Regions from separate parts of the Homo sapiens genome. Here region 2 is linked to region 1. The links come from fine-mapping of genetic effects on gene expression. A gene starts in region 1. The other region holds a variant in brackets. All regions are shown on one strand. Distances are from middle to middle. Region 1 holds the start of PITX1-AS1 (PITX1 antisense RNA 1). Region 2 overlaps PITX1-AS1 (PITX1 antisense RNA 1).

Evidence for each region.
Region 2: its variant is fine-mapped to the expression of PITX1-AS1 in whole blood (INTERVAL, PIP above 0.99).

What each region holds. Positions count from the first base shown.
Region 1 is chr5:135,028,938-135,038,558 of GRCh38, reverse strand. PITX1-AS1 (PITX1 antisense RNA 1) reads right to left here and starts at 5,285. Exons shown (of 6, transcript NR_161235.1): 1 at 5,019-5,285. It overlaps PITX1 (paired like homeodomain 1), which reads left to right and starts at 4,331. Exons shown (of 3, transcript NM_002653.5): 1 at 4,331-4,846; 2 at 7,051-7,283; 3 at 9,238-9,621. The coding sequence starts at 4,678. RefSeq lists enhancers at 4,815-5,447, 8,772-9,456 and a silencer at 6,618-6,825.
Region 2 is chr5:135,272,698-135,282,318 of GRCh38, reverse strand. The region is part of intron 3 of PITX1-AS1 (PITX1 antisense RNA 1); the gene reads right to left. Among named protein-coding and RNA genes, the nearest start is that of LINC02900, 29 kb to the right of the region's middle. The variant A/G (reference allele first, on the strand shown) is at 4,929.

The sequences.
Region 1 (9,621 bases):
CCTCTGAAAGCCACCAGGGCCAGAGGGAGGAAATCCCAGGTTGCTGTCCACTGGGGGAGGATTCAGGTCTAGGGTTCAGGTCTACGGTAGTCAGGGCAAAAGCTACAGGCAGCAGGGGCAGCACAGGAGACTTGCTGTCCCCGTGCCCTTTCCCGGGGCTGCTTTCGGCCTCCCGCATCTCTTCCAGGGAAAGGAAAAGAGGTGGGCTGGGGCTTGGAGACCAGGCTGTCTGGACTCTAGGATGCAGAGGCCTCCAGACAGGCTCAGGGTGCTCTTCTCCCATGAAAGCAGCCGCTGGGAGGAGGAGGCTATGGTGCATCCATAAGTTGCCCCTCTGCTCCCCAGTTGTGCGACCAGCTGCTACCTCCTTCCTAGTCTTCTTCCCCACAGCTCAGCCATTCTCAGGAACCAGACAGCGTCCATGGACTTAGGTGAGAGATGGGCCGGGTAGAGCCATGGGTCCTACCAGCCGCTGACTGAGCGGCCCACGGCACAGAGTCCTGAGTTCCATACTCCCATCTGTGCCTCACTGGCGGCAGTCCTGCTCAAATACATCCTGGCTCTCCCCGGGACAGGCTGGGGATCCCCATTTGGCAGGAAGCCTCAGACTGGGGTCCCAGGAAGCCTAAAGGAGCCAGTGAGGTCTTTCCAGCCCCTACCTGAGCACCCTCCTCCCCACTTACCCAGTAATTGCTGTATTCAAAGAAACGGGAGCTTTTATTGGGGAGGGGGTGTTAGATCAGGCAGAAAGAGGTAGGTGGTCCAAACCTGCACTCCCAAAACAGGGTTTTCAAGTTTGAACTTCTCCACGGACTAAGAGGCTTAGGGCTGGAATGTCCCAGAGAGTCATGGATAGCCCTGGTGGCAGGCCATGGCACATTCCTTCCTTTTTCCTAAAATACCTTGATTCTGGGAGCAAGGATTAGGGCACGGTGCCCCCGTGGGTGGGTAGAAGGATGCCCCCCCACTGAGAGCCTTCCAACCACCCTTCCCAAATTACATTACTAAACCATTCTTGGGCACAGGGTGTTTTTAGTGAGCCAGGCTTCAGGAAGGGTCCTCATGGTGACTACTTCAACCCCACAACAGCCCAAGCTCTTCTGCTCAGCCCAGCCAAGACCCTAAACTCCAAAATTCTTGAAAATCAGAGAATCATTGCTGGCTTTGTGTGGTCACGGAGGGGTGGGGAACAGGGCACATGGTTCCAGCTCCACTAAGCCCCCTTCCCTCCTCTCTTCGTGTCCCATCAGCAAGTGAGCTGGATGCTGAAGCAGCAGGCAGAGTCCGGTGTTGGACATGGGAACTGAGGCACAGTGCAGATCAAGCCTTAACCTTGAGGGAAACACAGGTCACATAGCACAGCTGGGGGAACACAAAGCCTCTGCTTACTCCTGAAAGAGTGCTGTTTTCTGTCCTGTATGTGTGACGTGTCTGTGAGCGTGCAAGAAGCCCCTATCTTGACTGGGACAATGGCCAGTGAGTGTAGCTGGGGAAGAATTGAGAGCATGTCCAGGTCCCTTCCCCAGCCAACGCCCAAGATCAGGCCACAGCCTCCTCACAATCAATTGCCTCCTCACTCCTTGATCACTCAGTGCTGCCCAGGCCCAGCAGAACAGACTCTGCCAGCAGGCCCCACTAGCCCCAGCTCCTCTTTGGGTCTCAGGTCCCCTGAGGATATGGGGCTTCACCTGAAATGGTCTGAGGGCTTTTCCTTCTACACAGCAGGCATCAAGATCACCAAATAAAGGGACTATTGTGCCTGCCTGGAGCCCTGCCAGAGGTTTGGGCCCAGAGGGGCACACAGCAGGTGCTCAATAACTGCATTAAATGCACTAACAGTGAGGAAACACGCCCCTCAGACTAAGCAGTGAGTGCTGCTCACAGAATAGTCCCCATTGGGGGATGGCCCAAAGAGTCACTTTGGTCCCTCTGGGAAGTGAGAAGGCAAGTGAGAAGGCTGTGAGTCTTAACCTCCTCTAGAGGCCCACAGACAGACCATTCATTTCTAAGTCTCTACCCAGAGACGCACTGTGCTTCCCACCTTGGCCTGACATGTGGCAGGGTTAGAACACACCTCCTATCCCCTGCCAGCCCGCGTTCATGCCAAGTAGCACATATATGCCTAAACTCAGCACTTCCATAGTGCAGTGAATACATGTGTGTGTACAGCATCTCCGCATGGATGTACAGGATGTGTGTGTGTGTGCGTGCCCCCATGCTGTCTGCATTCAGGCTGTTCTTTTTGGTAAGACAGCTAAAAAAAGAATGGTCTGTGAAGGGACACTCCCTAGCACGCTGCAACACCTGAATATCTCCTTGAAAGGAGGGATCTTCTACTGCAGGAGACTCGTGGTAAAGGTGGCCAAGAAACATGGCAACGGTGGGGCTGAGGGCAAATGCTGGGCAACTGTGCTTCCCCATGTTCCCCTCCCCGTAGCCAAGACTCATTTCATGGAGGGAGATCTCAGCTTGGAAGAAGGCAGGAGTCACTGAGCCTCCCCAATCCAAACCCCTGAGAAGTGTCCTCCCTCTGGCCTCAGACCCTGCATCCTGTGGTCACAGACCCACAGTGAGAAAGGACCAGGCCCTAAGGAGCTGTGCTGTCTCTCCACGGCCCAGAGCGGGGGATGGGGATGGGGATGGGGATGGGGATGGGGATGGGGATGGGGGTAGGGGTGGGGGTGCTTTGGACTAACGTGGAGGGAATGGAAGGCAGGCCTGGTTCCACCCTGCATGCCCGACCCTGGCCCCAGCAGCCCCCACAAGGAGCTCAGCTGACCCTGGGTGTCTCCCTGTGATGGGAAGGGGTAAGACGAGGACTCAAAGGCAGAACCTGCAGAGTGCCCCAGACGCTGATACCTGCACAGTCAGTGCCACCCACCCAGGAGTTGAGGAGGCACTGGGTTTTGGGGTGAGGACACTGGACACCTCCCTGCTTCTTTCCCAGGCAGACAATCCTGGCGCAGCTCCCTTGGGTTGCTGTGTCTGGTGGAGCTGATCACAGGTGAGGGGCAGAGGGCAGTCTGGGGTCCGCCTATGGCCAGAGGAGCAGGTCAGGGCGGCGCCTTGCCGCCCCAGCTGTGGCCTGTTTGCTCAAGACGCTGAGGTCTCGGGGCCAGCTAACAATTGTTGAGCAAAATCCTTCGACAAACTTCACCTACGTGCAAGGACTCGAGGAGGGAATCACTCTTAGGAGTGGGAGAGTAATGTCTTTGCCTGTGCCCAGTGAAGGCCCATTGGAGCTGCAGCTCAGCTACCACTGTGTGGGAGAGAAGCTGGAAGACTGAGGGCTTCCTGGGCTGCTGGCCCAGGGTTGGGAGACAGCAGTCACCTGGCTTACCAGGCCTATGCCTGAAGCCCTGGGAAGCCAGGACGCAGGCCCCAGGCTGGGACAAAGCTACCCTGAAGGAGGGCAAAGGCTGCCAAGGCCAACCCCATGCCTGCCAAGGCCAGGCCTGGCCCATTTGGCCAAGGCCTAAGGTGTAAAACAAGGGGAGAGGTACAAGAGGCTGTGGGGTCTGGCTGGGATCCTTGGGGTCTTCCTTCTGCATTCTCCAAACGCCTAGAGCCAGCAGAAACGTTTCGTCTGATTAGAAGCCATCATTTCTATCCCAATCCCGGAAAATTGACTGCGGTGCAGAGAGGGAGGCCTGAGAAGCAGCCGTAGGGGAGAAGGTCCAAGCTAATTAGGAGGCAGCATCCGGGGGCCCATTAGAGCGCAGGCTGCTGTCACTCAGCCGGGCTGAGTTCCCGGGAGAAGAGGCTGGAGAAGGAGGGGCAGGCGGCCCCTCGACGAGGACACCGCTGGGAGCTGCCGGAACGGGCCCCGGGCTCTGCCCCCGCCCCGGCGCTGGCTCGAAGGCGCCCGCTCGGTGCGATCCTGTTCGGCAAACATTCACTCATCCTGGGCTGTTCTCGCCAGGGCTGGGGACTTCGAGGCGGCCGAGACGGGAGTTGATTCTAGGCGAAACAAGTCATTTGAGGCCTGAGGTGTGCACGAGCCGCCCGGGACTCGCAGGCCAGATGCGTTTCTTTTGTGAGGCCGAGGGAGAACTCGGTGTGTCACCGGGGAAGGAGGGAGAGGCGCGGCGAGGCCGCGGGGGGCGGGGAGGCGGCGGGAAGGTGGCTGCGGAGGGGGAGGGCGCGGGCGAGGCAGGGAGGGAGGGAGGGCGGCAGTGAGGGCGCGGCGGCGCGGGCGGCTTGGGGCTGGATTCCGCCCGCGCTCCCTCGCTCGCTCGCTCCCTCCCCAGCCCCCTCCCACCCAGGCCCACCCCACCCAGCACCCCTGGCGCAGGGACTGCTGGAACCTGGCTGTGCGCGCTGTCGCTTTAAGACAGACTCTGCCGGCGCCGTCCGGAGCCTTAGAAACCGGCCCCGGATCGCGAGCCGGAGCCGGAGCCGGAGCCGGGGCCGGCCGGGCTGCTGAGGCCCGAGCGGCAGGAGCGCAGCGCGGAGCGCTGAGCCAGGCGCCCAGTCGCGAGAAGCTGCCGCCGCCTCTGCCCGCCCGGCGCCGCAGCCCCGGGCGGTCCATGGGGCGGGCACGGCGTCGCTGCAGGCGCCGGCAGCCCTGGAGGGCAGCCGCTTAGGCGCTGCGCTCTTGTCCCCGCAGGTCGCAGCCAGGGCGGCGGGGCGCGCCCAGCCCCGGCCCCTGGAGCGCCCGCCGCGGTCCCCACCTCCATGGACGCCTTCAAGGGGGGCATGAGCCTGGAGCGGCTGCCGGAGGGGCTCCGGCCGCCGCCGCCGCCACCCCATGACATGGGGCCCGCCTTCCACCTGGCCCGGCCCGCCGACCCCCGCGAGCCGCTCGAGAACTCCGCCAGCGAGTCGTCTGACACGGAGCTGCCAGGTAAGCGCCGTTCCCCGCGCGGCGCGCACAGAGCCTACCCGGGCGCGGAGCACGGGGAGCTGGGAGCAGGGCCTGACGCCCGCGCCGCGCAACCAAGCTCCCTCTCCGCCCCAGAAGCGTCAGGAGCTTTCTTTTTCCCGTTCTCGACCTGACGGTGAACGCGGAAACTTACGCACACGCGAAGGCACTTCCACGCGGTCCCCACGCGCCAAGAGACTGGCAGATGCACGAGCCTACAGCTGGAGGGTTGGACTGACAGCCCCTCTTGATCAGGAGTAAATAGAACGGGAAAGAATTTGATTTGCGCAACTGGGCGCTAAGGAGCGGCTCGGACGAAGGGAGAGGAGGAGACCGAGAAAGGAAGAGGGGTGACGGGCGAGAGAACGCACTCAGAGAGACAGAGAGGGAGGTTAACACCGTGACAGTAGGCGACAGAATGAAAGAGACCAAAGAGAAGGGGCGGGCGGGAAGGGTAAACGGGGGGAGAGGGGTCATCAAGTAGAAGGGAGACACAGAGGACGGTGAGGGCGAGCGGGCCAACAGGCGCGGCCGGACTCCCAGCAAGGCCAGCCGGAACGCCGATCAAGGGATCCGGCCCACGTGCGCGGCCGAAGCCCGGAGCAGCCCGGCTCTGGCCCCCGCCCCGGCTCCTGCGCGTCTCCCTCCGCGCTGCCTTTTTTTGTCCGAGCTGGAGCTTTTTTCCAGCAGCGAACTGGGCCCGCGGGTGGCCGGCGCGGGCAGTGGGGCAGCGAATCCGCTGCCCAGCGCAGCCGGCCGGGTTCCGGAGGGGCTCCGAGCTCCCCGGTGTGGGCGCCTCTTCTGCGTTCATTTCTTAATACACAGCTGAATGTTTCTCTCCACTTTCTTAGTATCTGTTTCTCTTTTGCATCCCTAAGTGATTTTTCTGAGAGGTTGTTTGCTTGGTTAAAACATAATCAACGCTGAACTCTACTTTTGTTTTCAAAAGTTTTAAGCGCGGTCTTTGGTTGGTTTTATTTTTAAAACCTAGAGAGATATATAATCGTATATTGATTTTTTTGAACCAAATCTATGAGGATGAATTAATTTTAACTGTATCTTTCGATTCTGAAAGAATTAACGTACGAAGTGTAGGTCTGGAATTTAAAATATCTACATGCAACATTATTCTTCCGGAGATTTTAAAAAGTCAATCCAAAATGGCGCGTTTCTCCGGAATTTTCTCAAAATCCATTTACAGTGGTGTTATTTGGGGAATTTAAATTATCTAACTATAATGTGTTTCTCTGGGATTTAAAAATTATCTCTACAAGGGCCTTATTGGGAAGGAGTTAAAAATCTATCTACAACGGTACATTATTTTTTTAAATCCCAGAGAAATAAATGCTTCTGTCAACCTGGAGTTTATACACTTACAGCTCTGTATTTAGTTAGGGGTGTGTTTGTACGGAGCTTTCTGGCTTCTTAATTTACATTTGCTCTGTGTTTCTTCCTGTCTGATTTTGAGAATTTGTGGCCCTTTCAGTGTCTTTAGGCATAGAGCTGTGAGCTTTTCTGGGCTTCTGTGTTTTGTTTTTAAACTCTTTTTCTTTATGTATTAATGTTTCTATGACTGCGTGTGTTTTGTGTAGCTTCAAAGAGAGACAGACTAAAGCCCGAGGTCACCTAGACAGAGTCTGTCTGTCTGGGCTGCAGTTGGTGGGGTTTTCTAGGCTTTGGGACTGGAGGCCTGGAAGCAAGGCCGAGAACCCGGCTGTGTTGTGCCTGCCCAGTGGGGCTCCCATACACCCCTGAGGAGAAGAAAGTGGAGGGACTTTAGGCTGGAGAGATCTGATCCTAGTTCAGAAAAGCAGAGACCCCCTCAGATTTAGACCCCCTAAGAGTTCGCAAAACAAACAAACAAAAAGCATACATTTGCTGGGAACATCAGCAGCAGGGTCAGAATCTGAGCCGAGCTAAGGGTGCAGGCCCTGCCCAGCCAGGAACGCAGGCCCGCGGCTCCAGCTCCGATTCTTGGGCTCTTCTCCGCGGCACACCAGACTAGAGGTGCCTACTGACGACCAGCACCCGGCGGGCGCTTTCCAGTGGGGACAGTTCCCAGGAACCCTAGAGGGAGGGAGGGAGGGAAGACCGCCAGCGCTGGTGGCGAGCGGTTCGGTGGAGCCGGGACGGGGTGCAACGGGGCGTAAGCCCAGGTGACCCGCTCCCCGTCCTGCCTACTGCAGAGAAGGAGCGCGGCGGGGAACCCAAGGGGCCCGAGGACAGTGGTGCGGGAGGCACGGGCTGCGGCGGCGCAGACGACCCAGCCAAGAAGAAGAAGCAGCGGCGGCAACGTACGCACTTCACAAGCCAGCAGTTGCAAGAGCTAGAGGCCACGTTCCAGAGGAACCGCTACCCCGACATGAGCATGAGGGAGGAGATCGCCGTGTGGACCAACCTCACCGAGCCGCGCGTGCGGGTGAGCAAGGGGTGCGCGCCTAAGGGCACCCGCGCAGAGGGCTCCCGGGCCGCCTCTGCTGCAGCCCTCCAAAGCTTAGACCCACAAGCAGAACTTCACTCTCCCACCATTCAGACCTGCTCCCTCCCTCCACCGGAGATCCCCACCTTAGGCCCTGGCCCACTAGCGTCTGCCAGGCCTCCAGGCGCCTCGGACCTTCAACCCCTTTGACCCTCATCCTACCTGATCCTCGGACTAAGGCAACCCCAGCCCAAAGACCTGTGCCCCCAGGGGACTCCCCCATGCCCTATGGGGCCCAGGACCCACTCAGATGTTAGCAGGATACCCTGGGCCAGAGACTGGGCAGTGGATTCCCTGCCGCTGGGGACCTCGGGAGCTGTTGGCCTTATCCCGAAAACGAAAGGGAAAGGCAGGTCCTGTCTGGCTGCCTCGGAGAAGCCTGAAAGGTGCCTGGGTTTGGGGCTCTCAAAACTTCCTGGAGCAGTGGTCCCATCTCATAAGCAGATTCTCTAAAAGCTCAAGATATTCTCCACCCTCCCCAGCCATCAGTAGGACCCTTTGCCTTCTGCCCTTTCCGGAAGGTCTCCCGTCAGGTGAGGTGGGGGGTGGCTCCGGGAGCCAAATGTCCTTCCCAGTCCCTTTTAGGATATGCCATCTCAGACCCAAGACCAGCCTGCATTCTCCCTCTTCTCACCCGTTTGGTTTCCAGTAAAAGCAAGGCTTTCCTGCCAGGGTAGCAAGAGAATCATTTCTTCCCTGGGGGCGTAAATATTTAATCAGATATTGGGAGCACCTCCCAAGTCGACCAAAATCCCAGCTGGCCCACAGACTCCTTACCATAACCCCAGCCCTCACCCCTCCCTAGGCAGGCTGGCCAGCCCAGTGGGACTTGGAATGAAGACACAGCACTCAGTAATCCTGAACTCACTAATCCTGCCCAGGTTTATGGTGGTAGGGGTGGGTGGGGGTGGAATCAGGTAGTGTCAGTGCTGGGGACTAGGGAAAGCTGAGAAGCAGGGATCTGGCAAACTAGCTCAGGAAACTCCACTCAGAACTGGAGGAAAATCCGAGTGGGCAGAGGGCATGCGGTAGGCAGATAGGTAAGGATGGGGGAGGACTAGGAGGTTCTTACCAAATTTGGGGGGAGAAAAGGAAGGGCAGGAAGATTAGAAGAATCTAGTAAGAATAGAAAAAATTTAAATATTTGTGGAGAAACATATTTGGCATATATTTAGGCGGCAGGAAAGAAATTAAATAGGAAGCAAAAAGATCAGGTATTTGAGAAAAAGAATCAACTGTTTAAGGGGAACAGTGCAGGTCAGATATTTGGAAAGGATTCAAAAGCCTAATATTTGAGGACGATTCAAAAGGATCAAAAATGGGGGATAAACAAGAAAACAGACTGAGGGAGAAGAAAGAGGTTCAGACAGTGGGGTGGACTGAACGAAAATAAACATTTGGAGCCAAAAAGAAAACATCAAATATTGCCGATAAAGATGATAACAAACTATTTGAGCGATGAAATAGATCGAAGAATTGGGGGAGTCGGAAAGTCCTATGTCTCAGGGAGGAAAAATACCTTTTGTATTTGAGGGAGAATAAAAAGACTGAAATATTTAGTAGATAGAGCGAACCTGTTTGGGGGAGAAGGCAGAGGTGAACTGGTTGAGAGAGGAAGAAAGAAAACGAATATCTGTTAAACGAGAATCCGTATTCGGAGAAGAAAACGGATATAATTTCGGGAGAGGATAAAGATCGGAAAAAGAAATTAGTATTTTCTGGGGACAGGAAAGGAACCATTGTGGAGGGAATGCAGGAGCGGAAATATCGGTCGAAGGAGAGAAACGACGTTCGGAGGGCAGCGGGCCGACGGAAGGCTCCAGGCGGTGGGGAAGGGGGTGGGGTCCCTCCCGGCCCGCAGCGGCCCTGACCCTTCTCCCGTCCCCTCCCCCAGGTCTGGTTCAAGAACCGGCGAGCCAAGTGGCGTAAGCGCGAGCGTAACCAGCAGCTGGACCTGTGCAAGGGTGGCTACGTGCCGCAGTTCAGCGGCCTAGTGCAGCCCTACGAGGACGTGTACGCCGCCGGCTACTCCTACAACAACTGGGCCGCCAAGAGCCTGGCGCCAGCGCCGCTCTCCACCAAGAGCTTCACCTTCTTCAACTCCATGAGCCCGCTGTCGTCGCAGTCCATGTTCTCAGCACCCAGCTCCATCTCCTCCATGACCATGCCGTCCAGCATGGGCCCAGGCGCCGTGCCTGGCATGCCCAACTCGGGCCTCAACAACATCAACAACCTCACCGGCTCCTCGCTCAACTCGGCCATGTCGCCGGGCGCTTGC
Region 2 (9,621 bases), 240 kb before region 1:
TTGAATAAACAAAATGTGGTAAGTATACACCATGGAGTATTATGCAGCCACAACAAAGAATGAAATCATGTCCTTTGCAGCAACACTGATGCAGCTGGAGACAATATTCCTAAGCAAATTAATGCAGGAACAGAAAACCAAATACCGTATGTTCTCACTTATAAGTTGGAGCTAAACATTGAGCACACATGGACATAAACATGGGAACAATAGTCACTGTGGACTACTGGGTGGGGGGAGGGAGGGGAATGTGGGTTGAAAAACTACGTATTGGGCACTATGTTCACTAACTGGGTGAAGGGATCTGTATTAGTCCGTGTTCATGCTGCTAATAAAGACATACCCAAGACTGGGCAATTTACAAAAGAAAAAGGTTTAACGGACTCACTGTTCCACGTGGCTGGGGAGGCCTCACAATCATGGCAGAAGGTGAAAGGCACATCTCACAAGGCAGCAGACAAGAGAAGATAACTTGTGCAGGCAAATGCCCCTTTATAAAACCATCAGATCTCATCAGACTTATTCACTATAATGAGAATAACACTAGAAAGACCTGCCCCCATGAGTCAGTTACCTCCCACCAGGTCCCTCCCACAACACAGGGGAATTGTGGGAGCTACAGTTCAAGATGAGATTTGGGTGGGAACACAGCCATACCATATTAGGATCCATGCCCCAAAACTTAGCATCACACAATATACCTATATAACAAACCTGCACATGTACCCCCATATCTAATATGAAAGTTGAATTTTTTTAAATCTTGTTCAAGAATGTTTGTATCAGCTTCACTCATAATAGCCTCAGACTGTTAACAACCTAACCTCCTTCAAAAAGAAAATCAGTAAACAAACAGGTATTTTTATACAATGAAAATACTGTTCAACAACTTAAATAATGAAATACTGATGCATGTGACAGTATGGATGCATCTCAAAATATGATGCTGAATGAAGAAACCAGACACAAATGAGTACATAGAGTACATACTGTGTGACTTCACTTACATAAAACTCAAGAATAGACTAAGCTAACCTATAGTGCTAGAAATAAGAATAGTTGCCTATTAGAAGTAGGTGGGACTGACTGGAAGGGACACAAGGGACTTTCAGTGGTAATGAAAGTGTTCTATGTCTTGGCTCTGGTGTTGGTCAAAGGTGTGTATATTTGTCAAAATTCATCAGGTTACATATTTAAGCTATATGCATTTCCCTGTAGGTAAATTTTGCTTCAGATTTTTTAAAAAAGTGATCATGCTGGCTGCTGCATGAGAATAGACAGTCAGGCTAGAGGGAGTATGGGCAGAGAGCAGTCAGCAGGCTGCAGCAGTTACCCAGGGCAGAGACGGCAGCGACTTGGACGCAGTGGCAGCAGTGGGGAATGAGACAGATTTGGAATGATAGTCTTCTCTAGAGCATCTTCTCTTGGGATGACAGCCCTCATAAATCTCCTCTCTCCCCTTTACAGTATTGCACCATGGGACCCATTGCACTAATTCTACAAACACTATCGACAGCCATCCATGCCAAGTACCTGATCATTTTCCTCTTCTCAGGATTCTGTTTATATATATTGGGATCCTGCCTGTGTTCCAAACCAGACTCTATCCCTTATTAGTGCACAATCTTGGGCAAGTTTAGTAACTTTCCAGAGCCTCAGTACTATTTTTATGTAAATGGGGATAATACTTAACATTTATCCTGAGGACTTATTACAAGGATTCGACGTAGATAAAATAATGCTTATTCTTAGGTTTAAATCAATAATGGCAAAGTGGCTAGTCCACTATCAGGCACACAGTGTGTAGTGAAGAAGGGATACACCCTTCCCTTCTTCCCCAGTCTCCCAAACTAGGTTGGTGCTTCTATTCTTGTCTTCCAGACCACATAGTGAGCCACAATGATAGGTGTGCTGCGGGTCCTAAATAAATATCTGCTTTGGTTATTGGCCAAAAATATCACAAAATAAGATACTTCGCGGAGTGGATTCTGGGTGCAGATTTGCTCAGCTGAGAATGTGGTTTTAGAGAGCATGGCTTTGCCCTAATTAGAACCCAACAAAACTCAAAATTTCAAATGTAACTCAGATCTTTGTGGGCTCAGCTCAACTTTGTGGTTGCAAAGTTTTCAAAAAATGTGGTTCTAAATAAAAGCTAAGGTAAAAGCCTTGCTTTAAAAAAAGCTAATAAAGACTATTGACTTAAATAATGCTTTATGAAGCAATATTATGATGTATTAAAAGCAAAAAGAAAGAAAGAAACATATGGATTAGATTCCCCTGGAAATATATCAACTTTTAAAGTGTAGGGAAATGGCACTCAGGAAAATATGGAGGCTTTGTTCAACTGAAAACACAAACCATTTTCTGAGTTTATTAAGACGTTTGCATCCATGTGATAAGCTCAGAGTGGGCTCCCTATTTTTTGGTCAAGTGGTATCAGACCACTCATCTTCAAAAGCCAGTCAATGCATCATGCAGCAAAATCAAACATATTTGAATAAGATAGAGACATTTTGTGAAAACACCAGAGTTGAGGGAGAAATGGACTTGGAATCAAAGCTAACTTGTCCGACGGGCTTCTATTTGCTTTCAACAGAAGATGACATATAGCTTCCAGTCAAAGATGGGGAATTAAACATACATTTACCTGTACTCCCTCGAGAAACACCACTTAATTAACAGTCAAAAGAATTTTGTTATGGTATAATCCCCATGGACAATGAGAACAGGAAAGAATACAACAAGAAGAACATTTTGGAAGCTGGACAAGTGGTAACCAATTTAGCTGATCTAAACAATTTATTCCTAAATCAACAGTAATAAAAGTCAAAAATCAACTAGTCAGGAAATGGCCACAACATTATCTCTGGAAGTGAAGACCAATGTGCATCTAAAAAGAGGAGGATTGGTTTACAATCGGTTTAGGAATCTGCCAAACCTTCAGATACCTATCGTCATTCCGTCTAGCCAGATGACAGCCTCTTCACCACTCCTGCAGAAGACCATAAGATTATTTTCTGGAAAGGATGAAATAGTATTAAGATCACCAAGCACTGTTAAAGGTGGATGTATCAGAATGAAAACAGAAAGATTAAGTGAAGTTTCACATGCTGTTATGGACTGAATAGTGTCCCCCCACCAATATCCATATGTTGAAGCCCTAATCTCCAGTTTGACCATATTTAAAGATAGGGCCTTTAAGGAGGTAATTAAGGTTAAATGAGGTCATAAAGATTGGGCCCTGATAGGACTAGTCTACTTATAGGAGAGGAAGAGACACAAGAGTGCAAGCTTTCTCTCTCTGTGGACAGGCACAGAGGAAAAGCCATGGAGGACATAGTGAGAAGGCTGCTGTCTACAAGCCAGGAAGAGAGGCCTCACCAGAAACCAACTCTGCTGACCCCTTGATCTTGGACTTCCAGCCTCCAAAACTGTGAGAAAATAAATTTCTGTTGTTTAAGCCACACAGTCTGTCATATTTTGTTATGGCAGCCCCAAAGGACTAATATGCATATTGAATAAGGAGATGATGAGCCTTCGCCTGCTAAGCTCCCAGAATGCTGGTAGTCAGATATATATCCTCCAGGCAGAAGACCGGAGAAGATTTCTCCAAGCAATCTGATTAGTTTCAGAAAAAAGACCAAAAAGATACCAACATAGACCAACATAGAGGATTTTCTACGAAAACAGCCCAGGTAGATGACACTACATGAAGTTTATGATTCAAACAGCCCCACCCAAGTACCTGGAGCTTTCAGGTCAGCTTTGTAGTTACCTTCACTCTTAAATATGAGCAACAACCAAGAATCACTAGGCATTTGAGGAAACTACCTAGTAGAAAATATAGTGTACAAAACAAATAGGTAAGGAGAAGAAAACTTTGATAAAATTATTAATATTAGAGAATATTACATCTATGAAACAAGATGCTATTTTAAAAAGGAACATTTAGAAAACAGAAAAGAATTCTTAGAAATGTTTTTAAATGATGGTAGAAATAAATGCAATAAAAATCTCAAAGATTTAAAGAAGTGGCTTAGAAAACAGAGAAGGCAAAAAGATGAAAAATAAGAGAAAAATAAGAATATGGGAGAAAAATTCAATAGATCTCATATTCAAATACTAGGAGTTCAGGGTCAGGGAGGAGGGTGGAACATAAGAGAAAAATGAGAGAGAAAATCATCAAGGAAATAATTTTCACAAGTAATAACCAAAATTGAAGGATGTGAGTTTCCAGATTGAAAAGACCTACTAAATGCCTCACACAATGAGCAAAAATAGATCCAAATCAAGGAACCTTCTGAAATTTCAAAATAACGAGGACAAAGAAAAACTCCAATAGTAAGAGAGAAACAAACAGTTTTCACACAATAGCCTTCTTAGCAATCCTGGAAGCTTGAAGACAATGGCACAAGTCCACCAATGTTCTGAGAGAAAAGTATCTCCAACCTAGAATTCTATACCCAGCCAAACCATCAATTAACAATGAGAACTTAAATAATAAAAAAAAAAAAGAATGAGGATACAGGCCAGGCGCGGTGGCTCATGCCTGTAATCCCAGCACTTTGGGAGGCTGAGGTGGGCGGATCATGAGGTCCGGAGATCAAGACCAACCTGGCTAACATGGTGAAACCTCGTCTCTACTAAAGACACAAAAAATTAGCCAGGCATGGTAGCATGCACCCACCTGTAGTCCCAGCTACTCAGGAGGCTGAGGCAGGAGAATTGTTTGAACCGGGGAAGTGGAGGTTGCAATGAGCCAAGGTTGTGCCACTGCACTCCAGCCTGGGTGACAGAGCAAGACTCCGTCTCAAAAAAGATAATAATAAAAATAATAATGAGGATACAACAAATACATTCTCAGACATGCAAGGTCTCAAAAAAAATTGCTTACCTCTTTGTAAGTTAATGAAAAAAAAATGTGCTTC[A/G]TCAAAATGATGAAGCAACTCAAGAAAGAAGAGAACATGGAACCCAGGAAACAAGATTAGTAGGAAAGGAAACCTGAGGAATCGCCAAGATATTCATGAAGAGTAGTCCTCAAACAACAGCTGAAGAGCAGACCTAGGAAGCACCCAGTCTAGCTCCAAAGGTTCCAGGAGAGATGTCCTCAAAAAGATGAAATTGGTAGAACCAGAATTGTGGATATAATTTTGAGACAAATTGTATTCAACTTGGGGAGAATTTGGTGTTGGATTGGTGACATATACATAAAAAACTAAGCAGAGGGGGAAAAAGATTAACTCCAGGGAATAAATGTGGATCAGGAAAGTACAAGTCATCACAGCTCAGCTGTGAACAGCGTTTTCAGGGTCAAAGTAGTATAATCACTGAATATTGATCTAATAAAATTACACTATAACTGTTTGGAAAGATGGCAGATGGGAAGCAGGGGTGTCGACAGGCAGTGGGGAAAACAGCTAACTCTTCTTCTTCTCCAGTGAGGAGTCAATACACAATGCTGAAAATGGAAAATTCAAGTAGCAGAAATATAAATATGACATTTAGAGATACATATTTTAAAAATTAGCTAAATTACTAAAAGTAGATGCCTCTAGATAGTAGAAAATTGTTGTGGAGGGGTGATGGAGAAGTCCAGGACTTTGTGTGCTTGCACGTGTGTGTTTGCAACAAGCATGCTAGAGTTATTCTACCCTCTAAACTATGTGCAAAGGTAACATTTATTTTGAAATTAAATGTAAAACAAAAACTAATTTAAAAAAAAAACTTTAAGAGAAAAAAAGGAGGAGGAGGAAGGGAAGCAGGGTGGGGAATGAGAGCAAAAAAGGCATGGCTGCTGTGCCTGATGAGAAGCCACAGGCCAGCTGCACAGGCGGCTTCTTCCAGAGGCTCCCACCTGTCTGACTGCACTCCCGACAGAGGCCTCCGCTAGCTCCCAAAGATTCAAGCACAGAAAGCATACATTGTTCCTCAAATTCCGTACACTTGAAAACTGTCTGGATGGCCCTCACAGGAAATGCAGATTTGCACACCCATTTGGAAGATTCATTTTAGTCAGACTGACCCCAGGGTCTCTCCCCTGGAGAACACCTGCTTACCAGCACAGGGGTGGGGTTGGTTCTGAGGACGCAGACGGATCTCAGCCCTCACCCCAGCAGCTGTGTATCCTAATTCAACAGGGGGACTTGAGAACATACAACCCACTGCCTATTCTTCAAGGCCTGGGAAGAACAGGATTCCCTGGACACTGGCAAGTTCAGACCCAACCCCTTCTGTTTCACACTGGTCCAAGCACCGCAAGACCCCATTTTATGCTTGAACCTTCTAAATAGGTGACTATGCCTGAAAGCCATTTCTTAAATAGTTCTTAGTAGGATCTTAGAGGAAAAACATTATCAGTCCAAGCACACCCACAAAACTTGGAACAGCATTTTATTTCTTAACTACTAATGTGTAGTTCACATGGTTTGACTTCTTCCTTTATAATTATAAAAGTAATTCAGGCATATAATAAGAAATTCTGACACTATGCATAAGTAGAATAAGAAGGCTCTCTCCCTGCCAGGCTCCCAAGACCTCTGTCTAAAGGTAATCACTGTGAATAGTTTCTTATGCATTCAAAGAGGGTATAATCTAGACATATAAACATATGTATGAACATATACCTTTCATTTAATACCAATGGGAGTATTCTCTACATTCTCTACATAATGCTCTGTACCTTTCTGTTTCTGTACTTGACATGTCTTGATGATATGTTAAGATCTTCAATACATTATAGGCCCTTCATGTTCTAACAGCTTCAGGATATTCCATTGCATAGATGTACTTGGTTTAATCAGTCCTCTCTCTGTGGACATTTACAGTTCTTTTTTTTTTGCTGTAATAAACAGTGACATGATGGATGTTCTTAAATTGATATCACTGCACTCATTTATGAACACGACTATATCCATAAGATGAATTCCTACATATAAAATTGCTAAATCAAAAGGATGGTACATTTTTCATAGAAATTGCCCAACTTTCCTCCAAAAGTCTTATACCAATTTACACTCCCTGCCCTGACTGACCATGCCTGTTTCCCCACATCCTTTCCAACAAAATGCATTACCAAATTTTAAATTTTCATCAGCCTGCTAGTTAAATGCTATCTTGCTGTGTTAATAGGCATTTTTAAAAATGTAAGTTTCTTTTCATTTGCTTATAAGCTTTTCGCTTGATTATAAATACTTCTTTTTCTGTGAACTTCCTGCTCAAGTCTTTACCCAACTTTCCATTGAGTTATCCTTTTTTTTCTGATTTTTAAAGGTTACATATAAACTCAGGAAATTAGTCAACTTTGAAGAATTACGTGCCTGACTTATTAAATGCTTTTTTTTTTTTTTGAAACCGAGTCTCTCTCTGTCACCCAGGCTAGACTGCAGTGGCCCGATCTCAGCTCACTGCAAGCTGCACCTCCCGGGTTCACACCATTCTCCTGCCTCAGCCTCCCGAGTAGCTAGGACTACAGGAGCCCGCCACCACGCCCGGCTAAATTTTGTATTTTTAGTAGAGACGGGGTTTCACCGTGTTCGCCAGGATGGTCTCGATCTCCTGACCTCGTGATCCGCCCACCTTGGCCTCCCAAAGTGCTGGGATTACACGCGTGAGCCACCGTGCCCAGCCATTAAATGCTTTCTTAAATATTAAGTCCTATAAGAAACGGGAGAGTCCTCCCCGTCTCATGGAAGCACCTAAAAGCAAGAGAGTAGTAACCACAACAGCAGTGCTAACAGGTGCACATTTAATAGGTGCTACTAGTGTGCTGAGCTCTGTTCTAAATGTTTTTCATACATCATCTCATTTACTCTTTACCATAACCCCATAAGGAAGGTATCATTACCCCCATTTCATAGACAAAGAACAGGTCTAGAGAGGTAAAGTAACTTGCCTAAGGTCCCACAGCCAGTAAACAGCAGAGCAAGGACACAAAACCAGGTTTGTCCCATTCTAGAGACCCAGCTATTAACCACTCCCACACTGTCTACTGTCTGCTTCCCAATGTTTGGCAGGAAGTAGGGACTGAAGGTCAGGTTGGTCACTCCAAACCTGGTGCAGCTTGATGCCACCTTGGAGATGCAAACCACCAGTCCAGCATGTGGGATCTGAGGGCGGGAGCCAACTGTCCTGTCCTCTGCTGTGTTCTCAGTTTCTAGGAAGGTCTCTGACACAAAGTAAGCATGCAGCAAATGGTGGCGGAGTGACAGCGTGAATGAGTGAATTTACCTGACTTCTCACTTGACCACAAGCTCCTTGAGGGCAAAGACTCAGCCGGTCAGCTGTTTCTCCCCAAAGCGTAGCCCAGTGTCTTGCACAGAAAGGGAAAAATCAAACAATGTTTGTTGAATGCAGTGAGCCCTCCACCGTTTTTGAAAGATGGCTCTGCCAAGCTTCAGCTTTCAGTCCAGGTGGAGGAACACCACCAACTCCAGGAAATATTTTATTGGACAACACTTGACGTGTCTCCCTGGGGAAACCCCAGGTAAAAGGGCTGGAGGTCCAGGGAAACAGGTCAGGAGGATGAGGGTGGCTCTCCCAACTCACAATTCAAGTCACTGGTCCCCTTTCCCCTCCCATGCCCCCAAGATTGTGGCCATTCATGTTTCTCAGCTGAGAATAACAGCAGTCCAAAGCGAGCACACAGTTACCTCCTAGTTCACTGAGTACAGACCCAGCTTTCTACCTGCATTAACTCATCTGCTCTTCAAAACAACCATATGCAACATGCACTATTATTGTCCTTATAGGTGAGGAAAGGCACAGAGAGGTTAAGCAAGTTGCTCAGGGTAACATAGGGCAGAACCAGGACTTTAACCCAAACACACCACTGGGCTTTTCTGCCCAGCAGCAATGCTCTCCTCTCCTGAGGGCCCAGCAGCAATGCTCTCCTCTCCTGAGGGCCCAGCAGCAATGCTCTCCTCTCCTGAGGGCAAACCTCTCACATCCTGTTCATCCTTCCAGACTCAGCTCCAGCCCTCCCCGCTGGACAAGGGTCCCAGTTCCCACCCATGGCCCTTGGGGTCCCTCAGCTGGGCATGACTTTGCTCCTGGTTCTGTTAGCCGCAGCAGGACCAGCCTAGTCTTATTAAGCTCCTTGGGGTGCAAGTACGGACTCTCTATGAGGGCTTGCCTGCCCAGGCTTCCTGTCTTCTGTCCCCAGCACCATGTGCCTGGCAGTAGGGCCCTCAAGGGCAGCCTCCCTAGCCTAGAAGAGACCTGTCCCCTCAAATGGCTTAGTGGGTGTAGGTGCCACCGGGTGTGCCCTTTCCTCTCCTGTCTGGCCGAGACAGCCCCTGACCCTGAGGGAACTGCAGTGAGGCCGCAGTGAGCTGGGCCCCCTCTCTCAGGCCCGGCTCCTTTAGGCAGGCATTCCTGCCACTTCTGTGACCTGTGCTGAAGAGCCTGGCTCTGGAGTCAGACATGGGTTTAAATACGCTTACTATCCATATGCCATTGGACAAGTTATTCAACCTCTCTGAGCCTAGGTTTCCTCAGCTGTAACACAGGGACAGTAAGTGTATCCACCTCACACCACAAGGGCTTGGGGAGGATTAGATTAGTTGTTAAGACCCCTTACTTTTCCGGAACCTACGCTGTAGTCAGGCACTGGTCTCGTATCAC